Regions from separate parts of the Homo sapiens genome. Here regions 1 and 2 are each linked to region 3. The links come from fine-mapping of genetic effects on gene expression. A gene starts in region 3. Each other region holds a variant in brackets. All regions are shown on one strand. Distances are between the middles of the regions. Region 1 overlaps ENOX1 (ecto-NOX disulfide-thiol exchanger 1). Region 2 has its middle 57 kb from the start of LACC1. Region 3 holds the start of LACC1 (laccase domain containing 1).

Region 1 (6,977 bases), 140 kb before region 3:
TTGCCTATTCATGCTAGTTTTGCCAATCAGTAACTCAATTATTAAGGAGGTCCAGCACTCATCCCAATTAAAACTGCAAAGCAAGAGGTATTGCCTTTTACCTGGCCCATTTCTGCTTTCATAGTCCTTCCAGTCCATTTCCTCTCTGAACTTTTTTTCTCAATTAGCACCCAGGTCCCTTACCCTCCATACTCATGGCTTAGCGGGGTTGCCCTTTATGGACAGTGCCCATCCTTCCAAAAATGGACAAATCTGCAAGGCCACACTAAAATAAAAAAACTATCCTATCTCCCATTTCCTCTATCTCCAACTGTTTCCTAGGTTCCAACTAGCTAATCAGATTAATTGACACCATTTGTTCACTAACAATCTTACACTAAGTCATTTCTTCAACAAATATCTACTATGTACCGGCATTTTTCTAAGTACTGGGGACATACTGGTGAACAATACCAGGCCAAAATTCTTTCCTTCATCGAAGGTTAACACAATGTTATCAATTAATGATAAATATATTGGTGGGTGTGGTGGCTCACACCTGTAATCCCAGCAATTTGGGAGGCCAAGTCGGGCAGATTGCTTGAGTCCAGGAGTTCAAGACCAGCCTTGGCAATATGGCAAAACCCCATCTCTACTAAAAACGCAAAGAACTAGCCGGGCATGGTGGCATGCGCCTGTAGTCCCAGCTACTTGGGAGGCTGAGGTGGGAAAATCGCCTGAGCTCAGGAGGTGGAGGCTGCAGTGAGCTGAGATAGCACCACTGCACTCCAGCCTGGGCAACCAGAGTGAGAGCCTGTCTCAAATAATAATAATTATTATTATTATATAATAAATGTATTTATTTAAATATATATAAACGTGTGTGGGAGTTAGATGATTCTAAGACCAAGAGAGAAAAATAACATAAGAAAAGAGCTGTTGTGATGAGGTTGTATTTTATTAATAAATAAGATGGTTAAATAAAGTGATGGATAAAGTCTAAAGAAGGTGAGGGAGGAAGCTGTGTGATATACGGTTAACCCTTAACAGCATGGGTCTGAACTGCACGGGTCCACTTAAACTCAAATTTTCTTCTGCCTCTGCCACCCGAAACAGCAAGACCCACCCCTTCTCTTCCTCAACCTCTCCTCAGCCTACTCAACTTGAACACAACAAGGATGAAGACCTTATAATGATGCACTTCCACTTAATGAATAGTAAAAATATATTTTCTCTTCCTTATGATTTTCTTAGTAACGTTTTCTTTTCTCAAGTTTACTTTGTTGTAAATTTTGGGGGAGTCAAAAGTTATGTGCAGCTTTTCAACTGTGCAAGTGGTCGGTGCCCCTAACTCCCACATTGTTGGAAGGTCAACTGAATATGGGGAATGTGTTCCCAGCAGAGGGAACAACAGATTCATAAGTCGTGAGTTAGAAGAGCGACATTTCTGAGGCACAGAAATGAGGCCATGTGCCTGCAGTGGGGTAAATGAGACAAAAGGTAGTAGGTGTTCAAGGTAGGGAAACACCAGGAACCACTGGAAGGACTTTGCATTTACTCTGAAAGAGAAGGGAAACCATTGGAGGGTTTTTAGCAAAGAAGTGACCTCAACCAATTTACCTTTTTTTTTTAACACCTTTACTGAGATATAATTGGCATATGATATCCATTTTAGATGTGCAGTTGAAGGAGTTTTAGTATATTCACAGAGTTGTACAATCATGATCACAGACAACTTTAAAACATTTTTTATTTTTTTTTAACTTTTTAAGTTCAGGGGTACAAGTGCAGGTTTGTCACATAGGTAAACATGTCTCGTGGGGTTTTTTGTACAGATTATGTCATTACCCAGGTATTAAGCCTAGTACCAATTACTTATTTTTTCCTGATCCTCTCCCTCCTCTACCCTCCATCCTTGTTACTCCAAAAAGAAACCCCATATCCATCAGCAGTCACTTCAACCTCCACCCCAAACTCTTGGTCCCAGGCATTTCTTATAAATGGAGTCATACAATATGTGGTCTTTTATGTCTGGATTCTTACACTTCACATGTTTTTAAGGTTCATCCTTGTTGTAGCACGTGCCAGTACTTCATTTCTTTTTATCGATGAATAATATTCCATTGTCTAGCTATATCACATTTTGTTTATTCAACAGTTGAAGGACATTGGCGTTGTTCCCTCTTTTTAGCTATTATGAATAGTGCTGCTATAAACATTTGTGTACTAGTTTTGTGCAGACACATTTTCAGTTCTCTCGGGTAAATATCTAGGAGAAGAATTGCTAGGTCATATGGTAACTCTGTGTTGAACCTTTTGAAAAAGTGCCAAACTGTTCTCCAAAATGGCTGAAACTTTTTTTTTTTTTTTTTTTGAGACAGAGTCTTGCTTTGTGATCCAGGCTGGAGTGCAATGGCGTGATCTCAGCTCACTGCAACCTCCGCCTCCCAGGTTCAAGAGATTCTTCTGCCTCAGCCTCCCAAGTAGCTGGGATCACAGGCACATGCCACCACGCCTGGCTAAATTTTGTATTTTCAGTAGAGACGGGGTTTCACCATGTTGGCCAGGCTGGTCTAGAACTCCTGACCTTGTGATCTGCCCACCTCGGCCTCCCAAAGTGCTGGGATTACAGGTGTGAGTCACTGCGCCCGCCTGAACCTTTTTATAT[T/C]CTACCAGCAGTGTATGAGGGCTTCAAATTCTCCATAGCCTCAACAACACCTGTTATTATTGGTCTTTTTGAATATAGCCATCTAAGCTGGTGTGGTATCTCATAGTGGTTTTGATTTACATTTCAGAGACTGAGTACCTTTTCATGTGCTTTTTGATCTCTTCAGATCTTTGCCCATTTTCGAATTGTGTTATGTACCTTTTTTATTAAGTTGCATGAGTTCTTTACATATCCAATATACAAGTCCCTTATCAGATACATGATTTGCAACTTTTTCTCCCATTTCGTAGATTGCTTTTTCACTTTTTTATGGTGTGCTTTAAAACACAGAATTATAAAATGTTGACGAAGTCCAATTTATCTGTTTTTTGTTGCTGTTGCTCGTGCTTTTAGTGTCATATTTAAGAAACTGTTGCCTAATCCAAGATCATGAAGATTTACATCTGTTTTCTTCTAATAGTTTTATAGCTTTAGGTCTTATTTTAGGCCTTTAAAATATTTTTGAATTAATTTTTGCATATGGTATAAGAGAAAGAGTCTAAGTTCATTCTTTTGCATGTAGAGATTCAGTTGTCCTGGCACCATTTGTTGAAAAGATTATTCTTTCTCACATTGAATTACCTTGCACTCTTATAAAACTAAATTACATTTTAACAGAATTTCTATAGTCATATTAAGAATAGACAAAATGGGCAAGGGTAGAAGCAGAGAAGCCAGTTAGAAAGCTATTATCATAAATCATGTATATTAGGGCTTGCCAGAGAAAAGGAACCAATAGATATATAGAGACATATAGAAAGAAATTATGAAGTATTGGCACACATATTATTGAGGCTGAGAAGTCCCATGATCGACATGCTGGTCAGGAAAACCAGTGACATAGTAACAATCCAAATCTGAAGGGCTGAGGAGCCAGTAGTGTTAGTCCTGGTCCAAGTCCAAAGGCCTAGGAACTAGAAGCATCAATGTCCAGTCAAAGACAGGAGAAAATGGATACTCAAGCAAAGAGAGACAGAGAGAGACAGAGACAGAGAGAGACAGTGTGTGTGTGTGAGTGTGAGAGTGTGTTAGTTCACCCTTCCTCCATCTTATTTGTCTATTTGGGCCCTTGACAGATTAGATGATGCCCACTCACATTGGTGAGAGCCATCTTCTTTACTCAGTCTACCAATTCAAATGTTAATCTCTTTCAGAAACACTCTCACAAACATACCCAGAAACAATGTTTTACCAGTTATCTGGGCATTCTTTGGCCTTGTCAAGTTGACACATAAAATTAACCACACACCAAATAAGAGATAATGGTGGCTCAACCAAGAGAGTAGCACTGGAAGTGGAGAGAAGTGGTTGAATTCTGGATGTTTTGGAAGTTGAGCTGATAGGATCTGCTAAGAGACTGGATGTAGGTGTGAGATAAAGAAAGGACTCAGTTGACTCTAATATTTTTGATTTTTCAGTTAGACAAACTGCAATTTTGGGGAATAGGGACATGATCGCTCAAACTACCGTGTGTAAAATAGACTGGGAACAGGGAATTGGGGGATAGGATGAAAGCCTTCTATCCTAGAAACAATTTCTGTTTCATTGAAAATCTACTGAGTCCATAGGGCACATAGATGGCACTAGTTAATGTTCCTTTACAGTGAAAGAGGCTGTTTATTCACTGAAAAGAGAATGCCTTGAGGGCTTTATTAGGGTCTTGAACTGAACTCTTTCTGTCTGTTTGTATAAGAGGTTCTCAGAACAAGTTCAGGGTTGCCCAGAAGTTGTTTTTAGAGAAGCCCTGAAGCCTCATACTTTCACAGAAGGAGACCTTGATAATCTCTCATCAGGAATTTATTTGAAATGTCATTAGAACTTCTTAGAGACATCATGACTAACCTAAAAAAAATAATTAACTGTGAGAACTACAAATTTTACCACAAGACAGTGGAGAAAACATTACAGGATAGATAGAAATTCAGGAACCCCTCAAATCACACTCCTCCAGAACATTTTCACTGGAAGACAAAGGAGCCTCATTTCCTATTAACTCAGAAACTCTTTCAAGCATCTGTTGTGGTAGATTTTCTAATAGGTCCAGCCCAGGGGGTTCTCAGGTATAAATCCTCAAGTTCTAGTAAAGCCTCTTGAGAAGATGGTCAAGGCACAACTTGAATAGCTCATACCACTGAACTGGAAAAATGCTCCTAAAGCTCTAGTGTCCTTTGAAGAGACTTGATCTTCCTCCCCTGGCCTTAAGAGAGGCAGGTAAAGCAGGATAAGTACTGCAACACACAGGGAAGAAATGAAATCACGAAGATCTCTCTTTCTGCGTAAAAATGGATGAATTTCTTCGGATTTAGCAGCTGTCTTAGTCTGTTTTGTAATGCTATAACAGAATACTTAAGATTGTGTAATTTATGAACTACAGAGATTTATTTCTTACAGTTCTGGAGGCTAGGAAGTCTAAGATTGAGGGGCCAACATCTGGTCAGGGACTTCTTGCTACATCAAAACATGGTAGAGAGAGAGCCAGAGAGAGGGGAGCAAACTTGCTTTTATAACAAACCCAGTCTCACAATAGCAAACTCACTCTCATGACAATGACATTAATCCATCCATGAGGGCAAAGCCCTCATGATCTAATCACCTCTTAAAGATCCCATCTCTCAAAACTGTTGCGTTGGTGATGGGGCTTCCAACACATGATCTTTGGGAGGACACATTTAAAACCACAGCAGCAGCTTTTCACTCTCTCTATCCTAGAAACAACTTCCATTTCAGTGAAAATCTACTGCCTCCACAGAGAACAGGAATGGCATTAGTTAATGTTCCTTTACAGTGAAAGTATGAGGCTTTCTCATACTTTTCAGGGCTTCTCTGAAAACAAGTTCTGGGCAACCCACTTTAGGTTCTGAGAACCTGTTACAAAAACAGACAGAAAGAGTTCAGTTCAAGACCCTAATAAACCCCTCAGGTCATTCTTTTTTCAGTGTACCAACAGCTAATGAGGAAGCTGTGCCTCTTAACGAGGAAAGGAGGCTAGGATACCATGCCAAGGATCTCCAAGACACACAAAGGAAGATGTAAATCTTTCCTCAGGCCTGGTGACAAGACAAAGACCAAATGGAATCCTAAAATGGGCTCTTTGGCAGTCACGTCTAGAGGAATGGAAGACGTGATGAACTACTCTAGGAACTGGTATTAAAACAAGCAACCCAAATGTAAATAAAAGACTACTTGCTTCAATTAAGTCTTAGCTACAGGAGTGTGAACTTTAATATTTCCTCAGTGTACATCTCCGCTAGTGCTTTCACCATTATTAAAGTATGTTTATACAGGGTTTGGCTTTCCAGCTATTATGGAAAAATTACATCTTGCCAACAGTACTATAGGGGTCTAAACACAGCAAATCCTCCACTGACCTTGAACCCAAGCTAAAGCAAATAGTCACTCTCCTTGGTGCTGAACTGCCTAAATAATGCACTGCATAAATGGCTGTGAATCTAAATTACATCTACAATGCATCTTAGCATTACGGATTACTAACAATTTTTCCAGAAGGCAGTGTTTGTAGAGGCATTGCAATGTGAAGGAAATTCTTAGGGAGAAAACTGGAAAACATTCACTTGCAAATGATGATCATTTATTTATTGAACACTAGGAGTATGCTGGGCCTTGAGCTCCACAGAGGAGGTAGCAGGGTGATGACAGTCTCTGGCCAGAAGGCTTCACAAGAGTGGAGGAAGAAGATGATGGTTAACAGACAATATGCTAGAGGAAAAGTAACTGCAATAGAAAGTTTGAAGTGGTGAAGCATCATGAGACGGAACAGAAAACAAAAGAGGGAGAAGACAACAAAAATGCCAACTGAAATATCTACTTAATATAAAATTACACTTCCATTTGAACCAAAATAAAATTTATCCACATGTAAAAGTGCTCAGAAAATAACATTAAATGAAAAAAGCAAAATATAAAATGATTAAAACATAAAATCATACATATATACAAAGGCCAAAAACTGGAAGGGAATACAGAGAAATCAAAACCACTTAAGGAAAACGTTAGAATTGTGGACATATCAGTTTTCTTTTGAAACTTCCTTTAATCATATTGTAAGAACACATACACTATATTTTTAAAAGGCAATTAGAGTATATGTGAATATTCACTACAGCTCTGTTTGTGATGGTAAAAGAAATAGAAACAACTAAAATATCCATCTATAGATAACATATTAAATGAATTCTGGCATATACATAAAATGAGCTGCTATACCACTGATATGGTTTGGCTGTGTCCCTACCCCAATCTTATCTTGAATTGTGGTTCCCATAATCCCCAG
Region 2 (6,977 bases), 57 kb after region 3:
CACTCTGCCAGCAGAATGGCCTTTCAGAAACAAACATTTTATCTTATCTCTCCTTTCCTTAAACACATTAATGGCATGTATCCCTACAACTTTTAGGAGAAAAATAAAACGTCTTAACACATAGAGTCCTTTGTGATTTGGTTTCTGCCCATCTAGATCTCTAGTTTCATCTTTTACCCCTCTCTCATACAGATCATTTCCCAGAATGAGGTCCTCCAGTTTTCTAAATATCATGCACTTTCGTACCTCTGGGCTATGCCACGTACAGTTTTCTTTGTGCTTTTATAGCATCCTTATCACACATTTATCTTTCCAACTAGATCACACACTTGTAGGGTTGTTTCTTTATATTTTTTGTGTTTTCTACAATAGTCACTTATTATTTTTACATTTTAACAAAATAAAATAATTGTGAAGGGCGCTATCCATTGAGGAAATTGGATATCCATTGAGGGAATTTAGTTGTAGAAGAGAAAAATGTGGTGGGATGAGACAGGCAACAGGATGGGTGGTGGGTCACAATACCTGTTTTCAAACATCCAAGGGCTTTCTTGGAAGGGTTTAGATGTCCATCTGGTGTAGATTTTAGGGAAACAGATTTCCTCTTAGTGTAAGAAAGTTGAACAGAGTTGTCTGAAGAGGGAATGAGCTGCTGAGTCAATAAGAGGTGAATGAATCACTTTTGGGTTTGTTTAGTGGAAGGGCTCTCACTGATACAGGGAGATTTCTGTTGAAAGAGGGAATTCAGCCTCTTCTGGAAGGTTGGCTCAAGTGGTCTGTGAGGTCTCTTCTATTCTTTGAATTTCACCATTACAAAAATAATTTAATAGCTTTCCACCCTTATACCCTGAAAACAGATTGATTTAACACTATTTAGAGGGTTCTGGTGTGGCTAGAGGAGCACAGGCCCCTCTCAGAATTCAATGTTAGTCATATCTTTGGTAAGAACTATCTATCTATCTATCTAACTATCTATCTATCTTTGATAGAGCCCTTTTCCTTCTTTGTGTTGTTCATCTTTTTTTCTCATAAGTATCCCATTCCTGATGGCCAACACATGACAGAATAGTAGTAAATGAATAACTTTCTATGTGTTAGGACACAACACCTTACTCTGTCCTATATTATGTTTCTCTTTGTGCTTGAATTATCTACCCAATTAGAATGTAAACTGTGCCTTAAATTTGTATGTTCCCCCCTGCATCTTTAAATATGGAATTATGGAATTCTTACTAAAGATTATATTTATCTGTAGTAATAATTCCATATATAAATTAAACTAAATTGAATTTAGGCAACAGGAAAACAGACCCAACAAATCCACCCTGAAATATTTTAGTAATCTATCAATCAAAGGGATTAAAAGAGATTTTAAAAACCCCATGAACATGGAACCTCAGTATAATCTGGCATACACAAAAGTAGTTTCTGAAATGTGGCAAATCGCCAGTCCTGGCAAATTGGGAAGGTAGTATGCCAATTACAGAGTGAGAAGTTGAATAGCACCATGGAGAATTAGGAGCAATAACACAGGATGAATGCCTTCGTCCTGATTTAGCCTCAGGTGGTCCTCACCAGAATCTGACAGGCAGATACCCTGGGATTCAGGGAATATTATAATCCCAGGGAATTCAGTCCATTGTTAATGTTGGTCAGGAATCATATACAGTATGAGTTAAGAAATACCAGAATTCATAAAGTAAGAATGTTTCTGCCTCTTTGTGGGCACCTGAAAATTGAATTGTCTGCCAACAGGAAGGGAAGCAGCAAGCAGATTCCTCAAGAGAAGGGGAGAGGCTTTGGTTCTCTTTACTTGCACACTTTTCTATAGGTAGTAAAACTATCAGCATCAGTCCCTTAGTCTTAACTGCAAAGTATCCCAGAGTATCAACTAGGGAGCTGTTGATCTGCAAATCCTCCATCTTCTCCCAGACTTTCTGCATTTGAAGGCCCCCCAAGGGTCAGCATCTTGTTTGAAGCTTAAAATAATTGCTTATCTTTATAGAGGCAGAGAGGGGTCTGAGGGAGAGAATAATGAAATAAAGACTAGTGGAAGCAGAAAAAGAAGGAAGTGTTTTGGATGGGGAAGGGAGAGAGAGCTTGAAGCTTAGGAACAAATTGACCAGTTTGGAGGGTAACCTTTTTCTCAAAAATCCAATTGAAAGTGTTCACAAGTCTGTACATCTAACCGTGTTGGCTGGTTTGCAGCAGCAGAGATGATGACAAGACTGTGTGACTCCTGGATGGAGGAAAGACATTCTTGTGGTGTGTCCCAAGAGACCTTCTGCCTTCCAGCTGACAAATCATCTGTGCTTCAAAAAAATTTCTGCTTCCAATCAAGACTGAAACTGAGAAATTTTCCTGACAAGAGTGGAAGTTGTAGCATGCACAGCCTGTTAGATTTGCTTCCTTTGTTTGGTGAGAAATAAAATCACACTCCACCAACAAATTGGAATGCCTAGGATATTCTCTGTCTCTTTCTCACTCCCTCACACATACACCTGCCTCCCCTTTGCCCCACGTGCATGCATACATGTGCACACATCTACCTTACTACTTTAGAGCCAGGTCTAATAGTGATAGACATAATCTCTGTCTGTCTATCATCTATCTATCTATCTATCTATCTATCTATCTATCTATCTATCAATCATCTATCTATCTATCTATCTATCTATCATCTATCTATCCATTCCTGTCACTGTCTCTGTCTCTGTCTCTTTCCAATAGTTCCTAGATTATGGCTAAATTTCCCCCCACATTTGGTAGGACAAAGACTTTTTACCATTAAGGATTTTTTTTTTTAATGTCCCTGCTACCAGTCATAAAGGAAATACCAAAAGGTCATTCCAAACAATTTTTTGGACAGAGGTTTACTGCTGAAATAGATGAAATAACTGATAATTTATCACAATAGCTAATTTGAAGGGGATAACTGGCACCTGGAAGTACAGAGCTGCTGTGTTGGTAAAAACAAAAGCAGCCGCCTTACTTTG[T/A]AATTATAGCTGATGTTAGAGGTTTTCTTTTTCTATTGTGGAGTTGTTGCCAAGGCAATAGCTTGGCACTCTTCTACACAAATGCTTTTCACATTAATCTACACAGGCTTCACAGATGTTAATTTTTGTAACACACCTATGCATTCCAGAAGAGCAAAATATATTTTTTAAAATCTGTTTTATATGGTAGGAAAAGAGCATTAGAAAACGTTTTTCTGGCCTCCTCTCTCGCTTCCAGGACACACTCACAGTGACCGTCATGGATTTTGAAATGGCCTCCAGACCTTAGCCCAGGACTGTGGGGAAAAGAGGGCAGGAAACCCAAAGAGAATCCACACGACAAACCAGATCAAGGACATGGCTAACGGTCAGAGTTGGAAGTTCTGCTGCTGAGACAAGGTGGAAGCCAGGAGGCAGAAACTCAAGAGGAACTAAAGCCAAATGTCACAGTTAGCAAAAATCAGGGCTAAAGCACAAGACAAGAACCAAAGGAGCGATCACTGTTGAGCAAAACAGTCTAGTGTCAGCATTCAGACACTGCCCTCGATGCAATTTCTGAACACTCTTGGGGCAGCAATGCTTCTTTAACCCCAACTTGAGGCAGCTCATGTAGAAAGCATCCACTATTGCTGGGCTTTGGGAGTGTGATTAATCTTGGAGGCAAGGTGAACTGTTAAAATTTTCACCCATCTTACACTGTGAAGAGACAGAATAAAGAAAGCCCTTCATACTTGTTGGTTCTGGAGTCATAAAGCTTACCAAAGTAGTAACATTGAGGCAGGGACTGGACCAGGGTGGGTGAGTGAGGTGCCTCAAGTACAAAACTTCAGGAGGCATTTACTCTTCAGGTCATATGAATGTGGGGCCACTGAGGCTCAGAGAGGGGAGGGGCCCCTTCACACCCCAGGCAGGGCAGCTCTGGACCTGACATCTGGTGCTCGGTGTCTCATTGATGTTAGGCCATGAGTTCATTTTGAATCAGAGTCTGTGGCGCTCATGGTGTTTCTTGAAAAAGAAAAACAACATTATTAATATTTAGCTACTCCCTGGCATTTTCTAATGTAGGATGGATACAAATAAACGCCCAAACTGGTGAAATAAAAAAATTTTGGTTAACACTATAGTAAAGACTTTTTTTTTCATATTCTTTTGCTGGCCAGGAAGTTCTAAATACCTTCCCAAGAGTATTTGCTGCAAAAAGAACAGAGAGGAAATAAATTATTGTGTGACTCCAGCAAACACTTGCCAAATGAATAGACAATGAATTAGAATTGGCAAAAGGGAGAATGGAACTCACATGAACTCAGTATCCTTTATTTTAGTTTCATTTAGTGGTTAAAGTCATACATTTGTTTTATTTTATGTACAATTTTTACATCTTTTTACAAAGGCTTTAAAAGGTATCTATATTAAGTGCCCACAAACTTTTCCTCTGAAACATCATTTAAATCACTCTGGCTGATTCTGCTCTCAACCAGATAAGGTATTAAGGAAAGACAAGAACAACAACAATAACAAAATGGTATGAAACTTTATCCAACCATGGCTTAAAAGGACTTATTGGTTAATTTGGATTTGGGTTGATGGTCAGGATGGCCTTGAAATTCATATTCTAAATTTAAATAGGAATTTCTTCAATTTTCCATTCAAGAAGTGATTCTCTTTCTTTTGTTCCACTAGGCTGTACAGATTGTATTCTCTGTTTCTGAGGCTGTCATCCGTTAGCAGGATTTACAGTTGCTGACAACTTGCTTTAATAATTCACAAGGAATAGAATCTATTTTGTGCTCTCTGTTTTCTCAGTCAGTTCAGTGATGCAGACAGATTAAAAACATGCTTTTTGTCAGTGAAATAAATTGAGAGGGCACAGAGACACCCTAGGAGGAGTAATACTGAACAAGATACCACTGTGAAATGTTTTCCCACCAGTACACAGCTAGATAAAACCAGAAACAGACCAGGCTCTGTCTTGAACCCTTGAATCTGGCAAGCCTGGTACTGAAGTTAGGCCTGCTCTCCAGGCATACCCCAAACTGTTGAGTTAATTTATATAGGCAACTGAATGTACTGGCTTTCAAGTTTTAGGGAAAGGAAATCATTTTAAGGACAAAATGAAATTCGAAATTCACACACAATTTATAAGCTGTGGCATTTTCTTTTTGTGAATTATGGTAGTAAAATGTGTAACTAGCACCTGTTATGTATTGTTTATATAGTTATCTGAAAAAGAAGATGCCTTTATTTCTGAGTAGCATCAGACAGCAGGGCAGGAAAGAGAAGGCTGCCTGGCCATAACTTCTACGCCTCCCTGGGTCATGCTATTGCTTCATGCTTCTTTAATATTAAATGTAACAAGTTCTGCATCAGGCTCAAATCCCATCTGGCCTCAGCCCAGAAGAGGCCCAGGGCCTGTCAGGCCTTACACTGCCCTGACTTTGTTGATAGATTCTGCTCATTGAAATTCAGCAGTGGAGGAAGAAGGTGCCTCCTCCTTGCAGCCTGTTCCTCTCCCTAAGCAAACAAGACTGTGGCTCAAAGGCAATGTAGACCATGGTGTCCACAGCCAATTTCAATACTTAGTTCCTTCCTGAAGCCAATCACCAGACCCACACCACAGGGTGGACACACCCTTCTGGGTAAAGAATGTATTTATTTAGGTTCATGCAGAAGCCAAAGAAGAAAGAACAGGGCAGATGAGAAAATCCTATAATGGACCTTGCAAGTGAACTGAGAGCTGTTTGGTGAATCTGGCTGACCACTTCAGCTCACTAGTGTGCACACATAACGCCCTTTCAGACTTTGGCATTCCTTGAATTTTCAATTTGATTTTGGCACTAGCTGTTTTCATAGGTAATTTTTCTTATTCTTCACATATTTCATGCCATTATGAAAAGTAAGTGTGTTTTGGCTAGACATCCTAGCAAAAAAAAAAAAAAGATGGTTATGAAGGTATTATCTTCAAAAGAATATTACAAATCACTATCTGGAAGTCAGCTGGCATCTGATATATCTTTATTTGTCTACATATGTAAATGTACATAGATATATAGTTATAGATATAAAATATTAACCAAATTTATGCGTGGTTTTCTTTAGGTAACTACAGATAAAAACTGCAGTTCCACTTGGCTTTTGTAACAAGTTGGCATCTAGGTTTTCATCTAATTGGTAAATGTATATAATTTAAAAACAGCTTAATTTTTTTTCTTAGTTTTCTTTAAAATGTGAATTGAAGTTGTGATTTGAAGTTGGAGTAAAATATCACTGGAGGCCCAGACATTTCCTGAAGTTTAATAGGGTAACCCTTTGGTGCTTGGAGCCATAACTTTACCATCTGAACTGCTCCAGAAATTCCAGTCACCAAACTCTGATATTTTTTTCACTCCTCCATCACATTTTAAACTTGTAATGGACCTTAAAGTGTTTCCAGTTCACCCTTGCAACTTTGCCCCAAGCTGGAGAAAGAATCTACCCCAAAATGTGCTCTTTATAACAACAGCATTTTTCCAGCCCTTGCCTCACAAAGGTGACATCTCTTGAAACTATTACGGCTTCAATATGCAAGGGATGTGGTCTCGGCTTCACCATAGCAGCTGCTGGGAGCAACCAGCTCTCCCAGGTTTATGCCACATAAACGCACACCCAAATACTCCAGTTCAATTTATTTTTCCTCATGCCGTTACTCCTAAATACGAATTCTTCCAGGGGTGGGCAAACTAATTTCTAAGGCTGTTTTCTTTTATTTTCTTCTTACTTTCTTTCTTTTCTTTCTTTTCTTTCTTTCTTTCTTTTTTTCTTTCTTTCTTTCTTTCTTTCTTTCTTTCTTTCTTTCTTTCTTTCTTTCTTCTTTCTCTTTCTTTCTTTGTCTTTCTTTCCTTCCTTCCTTCCTTTCTCTCTCTCTCTCTTTCTTTCTCTCTCTTTCTCTTTCTCTCTCTCTCCCCTCCCTCCCTTCCTTCCTTCCTTCCTCCAAATATCTACAAT
Region 3 (6,977 bases):
AAGTCATAAGTGACTAATTCCCATATCATGCTAGGAAACTGTTAACTAGTAAATCTGCCTATTTCTGCTCCTATCAATTGACTAGTTCAATCTTATGACTTACTTGTGTTTGTTTGCAAACCTGTTTTTGCCAGTTGTGCTTGATATTGTGCTTTCGTAACTTAATATTGTATAAACCAATGAAATAGTGTGGAAATTGTTGTTTCTTTAAAAATCTATGTTTAATATTTTGGAAAGACCCAACAAAAGTATGTGAGATTAACTGTAAAAGATTATAAAATATAGCGGTGGCTCATGCCTGTAATCCCAGCACTTTGGGAGGCTGAGGCAGGCAGATCAAGAGAGGTCAGGAGTTCGAGACCATCCTGGCCAACATGGTGAAACCCCGTCTCTACTAAAAATACAAAAATTAGCCGGGCGTGGTGGTGCACGCCTGTAATCCTAGCTACTTGGGAGGCTAAGGCAGGAGAATCACTTGAACCCTGTGGAGGCTGCAGTGAGCCGAGATCGCACCACTGTACTACAGCCTGGCGACAGAGCGAGACTTCATCTCAAAAAAGAAAAAAATTACAAAGTATAAATCTGCCCTCAGATTGCTTCACAGGTGCCTTTAAGTTATTTTCCCCTTAAAAGAACAAAATCTTGGGAAATCTTAGCTGATGGTTTATGGGTACGGTTTATGCAAGAGATAGTATGCAGAATTCCAATCAGTAGACTACATGCAAAGAAAAGGTCTTGGATCTTCTCAATAGATGGGCAAATGAACACACAGTTGTTTTAGGTTAGAATACAGTTTAAGGTATTTGTTATATTTTTTCATGATTCTGTGGTTTAACTGACCTTTTTTCTTATAAAAAAAGCCTTTTTTAGATATAATTTACATACCACAAAGTACATCCTTATAAAGTGTACAATTCAATATTTAACCATTTTTTCCACTTATTTCTTGGCTAGGGGCCCAGACTACATCTATGAGAGGGCTTCTTCATATGAACAAAATGTAAAGAAGCTATTAATTTTGCTTGATGAGGGATGGGGATTCAGGGAAGATTATGTTTGAGCTTGAAGAGCCTTGAACAAAAAGTAGCAGTTAGGCATATAAAAAGGAGGGTATTTTGCTAAGTAGAGGAACTGCAAATGTAAAGAATGAAATCATGTGGCCTCCAAAGAACAGCTTTTATTTGAGTGGCTTGGGAATAGGGTGTTTTTATTTTTTCAAACTTAATTATGCATCTAACTCATACATAGAGGTTAAAACAAAACAAAAAAGCAAAGCAAAACATGCTCAGGCCTAACTCCTAGAGATTCTGATTCAATGTATATTTGGGATAGAGTCTCTACATTAATTATTTTTTTTTTCAGTTGCACTTGCAGTTCTGATTTGCAGCCAAGACTGAGAACCACTGGAGTAGGATAGAGTGAAAATGGGATGAGGAAGTGTTAGGACATGACACTAGGACCAGATGGTGAAAGGAAATGGTATGCAAATACAATATAACAAACTCTCTTCCCTGACAACTTCATTCTTTTGAAATATTTTCTTTTTCATTTTTTTTTTACTGCCACTACTTTTGCATGAAAGAATACGAATCCCACCATTGTAAAAACAGAGATAAATGTTTAAAACCTTTGTAACTAAAAGACCTCTGTTTTGCTTGAGGTATTAAGCTGGTGCAAAAGTAATTGTGGTCTTTGTCAATGGCAAAAACCGCAATTACCTTTGCACCAATCTAATGATATTTAACATAAACAAACTCAGGGCAGAGTGCACCTTCTGATTGGGTGTACCATCTACCGCTCGGGGCTCTTTAACAAATGACCAAAGAAAACATGAATTTTGACATAACTGGTGCTAGGGTTATTGAAGGGTGGGTTTCCATTCTGGGTTAGTGCTCCCAGTCTCTAGTCAAGCACAAGAACATGCCTACCCCAGAGGGCTCTTCCAAATTCCCAGCTATCTGAGATTATGAGACAAAGGTTCTTTAGCGCCTACCAAATGAGCAACAATGAAGATAAAAGGGACCTCTCCTTCCATCATAACCAGTTCCCCAGGAAGCACCATTTCTCTTACTCTTGGAAGGTCGGATATTTTTTCCCTTTACCATACACTGGCCTTCCATGTCCTAACTGCTATTTTCAAATAAATGAACGTTATATTCTTGGAGGACAGATCAGGGATGCTAAACTGCACCTTTATCATGATTTTAGGGATGAGCGCCTTTTACTTAAGTCCTGCTAGTGGCACATATTTTAAAAGGCCATAGAGGACATCCGTGTTGTCAACACAAGTGAAGGCGCTCGGAAGAGTGTTGGTCAGCAAGAATCAGCACAAAGACATTGGAGGAGAGACAACAGCTTGTTTCTGGAAACAAATGAACAACAAAAAAACACTAAAACATCTCGAGGGGGCCCCTGACTTGAGCCCTGCATGGGAAAAGCTGCCAAGAGCTAGCATGACAAGGGACTGGCCCTGGGCTGCGGTGAGGAAACCCAGCGTCCTGACCACACTGCTGGGTCAGCGAGGCGTCCCTCAGAGACCGGAAACGCGGACTTCAGCTCGCTTGGGAAACGGCTTCCATTAGCAGAAGGGAGACTGCGGTTTAGTCCCGAGGTCGCTCCAGCAGCCCGGCCTCACGCGACCCACCATTCCCGCCGCCCCCTCACGGTGCCCGCCGTTCCCGCCGCCCGGCTTTCTAACCGGGCCCCTAGTTCCCCGCCCCGTGCCCTCTGGAGACCTGCAGCTCCTGCCGCCCTGCGCCCGCTCCCAGGGCCCGTCGTTCCGCCGCCCTATCCCTCCTCAAGGGGCCCCTAGCTGCCTCCTCGCGACCCTTTCCGGACTCGGCCTGCCCACTCCTGCCCGCTAACCCGCCTGGCTCCCGGGCGAGAGCCCTCGCGCGGCTCTGGTTCCTGTTCCTCTAACGCCGCCGGGGCTGCGGGATGCCGACTCCGCGGACCGCCCAGACCCGGAACTGCTGAGGCAGCAGCGGGCTCGCGGCGCTTGGCTCATCCCGGGATTCCCCAGCTCTCGCGCTGGGCCCGCCGCGTTCGCACCAAGCACGCCAGGCGGCCCTGGCCTACCTCCCTCCCGCCTCCCGGCAGCTGGCACGAGGGAACCTGGCCGTCAGGTTTCCCCTGGGATCCTGGGACGGTATCAGGCGGGGAATCTGTGCGGCCGCGGCGAGGTAGGTGAGGTGAGGCGGGGCGAGGTGGGCGAGGGGGGCGAGGTGAGGCGGGGCGAGGCGGGGCGAGGCGAGGCGGGGCGAGGTGGGCGAGGTGGGCGAGGTGAGGCGGGGCGGGTGTCGTCGCGCTGGGCCGAGCTTACGACTCCAGCTGACCCGCTCGCGGCTGCCCAATTTCGTTGAGGCTCAGGACGAGGGACGGGGCGGCAAATTGTCACAGAGGTCGCCGTAGACCGGTGTGCAACCGAAGGTGAAGAGCGGGAAGGCGAGGACCGAATCGCCTCTGGTGTGCGTTGTCCGACAGGAAGTCCCGAATGGGCTGTGAGCCGCCGGTGGAGGTGCCCGGGCAGGTGCAGAGCCACAGCCTGCGCCCCGTGAGCCGAGGCGGGTAGGAGGAACAGGGACCTGGCGGCGACACACGTTGGGCGGAAATTCACAATGAACAGGGAAGGGGGGACGGTCACCCACTCAAAACTGGCTAAATGAACCTCAGAGGGAGCCCCGAGAGATGGGGAGCAAAGGTTAGGGGAAGCGGCAGGAGAAAACCTTCTTGGGGCAAAGGGCGTCACCAAAGGGGGTCACCGGAGCCCCGCAGGTTGGGGTGGGAGGGCTGGGCTGGAGGTGAGCAAAGCTGCACGGGGAGAATGAATTAAGAAAGTTGAGAGGAAGCCTGTCTCATCCAAATCACTATAGCTTTTGTGGTCATTGCTAAGTGTGGAGTACTGCGCAAATCCTGAAGGGAACTCTATTAGCCATCTCAGCTTTTATCATCTTAAAACGCGAATTTCGCGTGCAGCTCCATTTAGCTTCGTAAACTTAAGCCCCCGCATATGAAAGGATGAGACCTAATATGACAATCATGTCAGGACTAATGATATATCACACAGGTTGACACTCTGCAATTTAAAAACAGGACTTTGTCTAAACTCCACAAGTAATTCCTTACTCAAAAGTTCTGTGTAAACAAAACAGAGGAACTGTCGTGCTGCTGGAAAGATGTACCAGCATTTTCACAAAACGAATTAAAAGATGGCTTTGCTTTCACTGTCATGGTTCTGTTGTGACAGAGTAGACTGGCTTTTCTGGGAGGGGCCTAGATTTACTATTTTAGTTACATTTTAAAATCAGTGTAATTACTTCGTTTTTAATCTACCACAAATTTCTGTTGTAACTATAAGATTTATATAATCTTATATTCTTACACTAATTTTTATTTGCAGGTGATTTATTTGGCATAAAAGTATTCTTTCAAGGATGGCAGAAGCTGTTTTGATTGATCTTTTTGGTTTGAAATTGAACTCTCAAAAAAACTGCCATCAGACATTACTGAAGACTTTGAATGCTGTCCAATACCACCATGCTGCCAAGGCCAAGTTTCTCTGTATAATGTGTTGCAGTAACATCAGCTATGAAAGGGATGGAGAACAAGATAATTGTGAAATAGAAACAAGCAATGGATTATCAGCTCTCTTGGAAGAATTTGAGATTGTTAGCTGTCCCAGCATGGCTGCCACTTTGTATACCATTAAACAGAAAATTGATGAAAAAAATCTGAGCAGCATTAAGGTAATTGTACCCAGGCACAGGAAGACATTAATGAAAGCTTTTATTGATCAACTCTTCACTGATGTTTACAATTTTGAATTTGAAGATTTGCAAGTGACTTTTAGGGGAGGGCTTTTTAAACAGTCCATTGAAATAAACGTAATCACAGCTCAAGAACTAAGAGGAATTCAGAATGAAATAGAAACATTTTTGAGAAGTCTGCCAGCACTGAGAGGAAAATTAACTATTATCACTTCTTCTTTGATCCCAGGTATATTAACCACTAACTGTTGTTTTTACTTTGTACATGGAAAACTAGTCTTTCTTCAGAGGTAGTTCACCTCTTTTTTTCCTCCTTTCTTTTGTTGACTGTTGTGGGCTGATTACTCATTAGCATCAGTGGCAACACAGAGGTGTCATGTTTGGCCCTGTAGTATCAGGGGTGTCAAGGGATAAAGCCTTCAAAGCCACCCCAAATAAATAAATTTGCTTTACAAAAATTTGATGATGAGACAAATAATCTAGCCCTCCTTTGCAATGAGATTTATGACACTGAAAATCTTCTATTTAGAAATTCTGAAATTTCAAATCATTGGCACCTTCATAGAAGAGTAAAATTTAAAACAATCAATCTTACTTCTTGGTTAAACAGTATTTTCTGTGAGCTATATGCTATTAGATATAACAAAGCCAGATGAGACACAATATACCTTTTGAAGAGCAACAATCTCATAGGGAGTGTAAAACAAACACAAAGCAGAATGCCATAAGAACATATGGAGGTACAAAATGCCATAGAAATTAGAAGCCAAATAACAAGGGCAGGTAGCAGTGATCAGGGAAGGTCTAATTGAGAGACTGGTATTTTGAATAGCATCTTTTAAATCTTCACTGCTTATCTTCAACAGATATTTTCATACATGGATTTACTACAAGAACAGGTGGGATATCTTATATACCAACTCTTAGCTCATTCAATCTCTTCAGTAGTTCCAAACGGAGAGATCCCAAGGTAGTGGTTCAAGAAAATCTGCGTAGGTTGGCGAATGCTGCAGGATTTAATGTGGAGAAATTTTACCGAATAAAGGTAAAATTTTGCTTTATATTTTGAAAGATCTAAAGTATATTTTTTACTTTGCTAGTAACTACATGGACTTTAAGCTATTTAACTTTTGTATCTGCTTTTTTATCTAAAGTTTTAGAATAATGCTGTGGTTGTCTTTCTTAGATTTATACACCATAGCCTAAAGATAAGTTCTATTTTATACACACACACACACACGTGCAGATATATATATATATATATATATGCACACACACATATAGTAAGTCATCCTTTAATGTTGATAGGTTCTTAGAAATTGTGACTTTAAGTGAAACGACATAATAAAACCAATTTTACCATAGGCTAATTGATATAAATAAGAATAAAGTTTCTAAGGCATATTTCTTGTCACAAAAACATCACCAAACTTCTAAATAAAGACCAACACATTCCTAGTATTAAACATTGAAATAAATGTGAGCTAGACATATATTTACAAAACAGTAAGAAAGACAAATAAGATAACTACCAAATTATTTCGGTTCAGGGCTTTAGGTAGCTGGAGTCTATTCTGGCAGATCAGGATGCAAGGCCACAACCCACCCTCGACAGGACACCATTCCATTGCAGGGTGCCCTTACACACACACACACGTACTCATGCTGGGACCATGTAGACACCCCAATTCATCTAACATGCACTTCTTTGGGATGTGGGAGGAAGCTGGAGTACCCAGAGAAAACCCATGTGGACGTGAGGAGAAGGTGCAAACCTCACACAGTCAGTGACCGGGTGGGTAATCAATTTTTTTCATTAACATTATAATGAAATGATGTGGAATAAAATGACATTATTCAAGAGCCTACTGTATATTTCATCTGGAGTCCTCAATTCTAAAAGTACAGTTAATTCTCAGAGAGTATACTACCACTGCTCTTTTTGATTTAGAAGAAAGGGAACTGAATGGTGGTAGAGAAAGGCCATTATTTTATAAATCTACTCCAGGAGGAACTAGGGTCATAGTTGATGAGATAATGTCTTGTTCCTTACAGAATTCTAGCTTTACTTGAGTCTTGGAAAAGTAAAAGTATCATTGATTTGTTAATTAACTTTCCTTTACAAGAAAAATTTTCATTTTGTAGAAAGTGCTATAAGAAATGATATACCTATCTTTATGGAAAGATGTTCATTATTCACTATATTGAATT

What was found. PIP is the estimated chance that this variant, and not a neighbour inherited with it, causes the effect.
Region 1: its variant is the best candidate, but not a certain one, in a credible set for the expression of LACC1 in whole blood (INTERVAL, PIP 0.69).
Region 2: its variant is the best candidate, but not a certain one, in a credible set for the expression of LACC1 in esophagus muscle (GTEx, PIP 0.88).

The regions. Positions count from the first base shown.
Region 1 is chr13:43,738,750-43,745,726 of GRCh38, forward strand. The region is part of intron 1 of ENOX1 (ecto-NOX disulfide-thiol exchanger 1); the gene reads right to left. Among named protein-coding and RNA genes, the nearest start is that of ENOX1, 45 kb to the right of the region's middle. The variant T/C (reference allele first, on the strand shown) is at 2,648.
Region 2 is chr13:43,933,808-43,940,784 of GRCh38, forward strand. No RefSeq gene overlaps it. Among named protein-coding and RNA genes, the nearest start is that of LACC1, 57 kb to the left of the region's middle. The variant T/A (reference allele first, on the strand shown) is at 2,997.
Region 3 is chr13:43,876,553-43,883,529 of GRCh38, forward strand. LACC1 (laccase domain containing 1) reads left to right here and starts at 3,352. Exons shown (of 7, transcript NM_153218.4): 1 at 3,352-3,567; 2 at 4,400-4,995; 3 at 5,633-5,811. The coding sequence starts at 4,434. It overlaps CCDC122 (coiled-coil domain containing 122), which reads right to left and starts at 3,188. Exons shown (of 7, transcript NM_144974.5): 1 at 3,079-3,188. RefSeq lists a silencer at 3,090-3,239.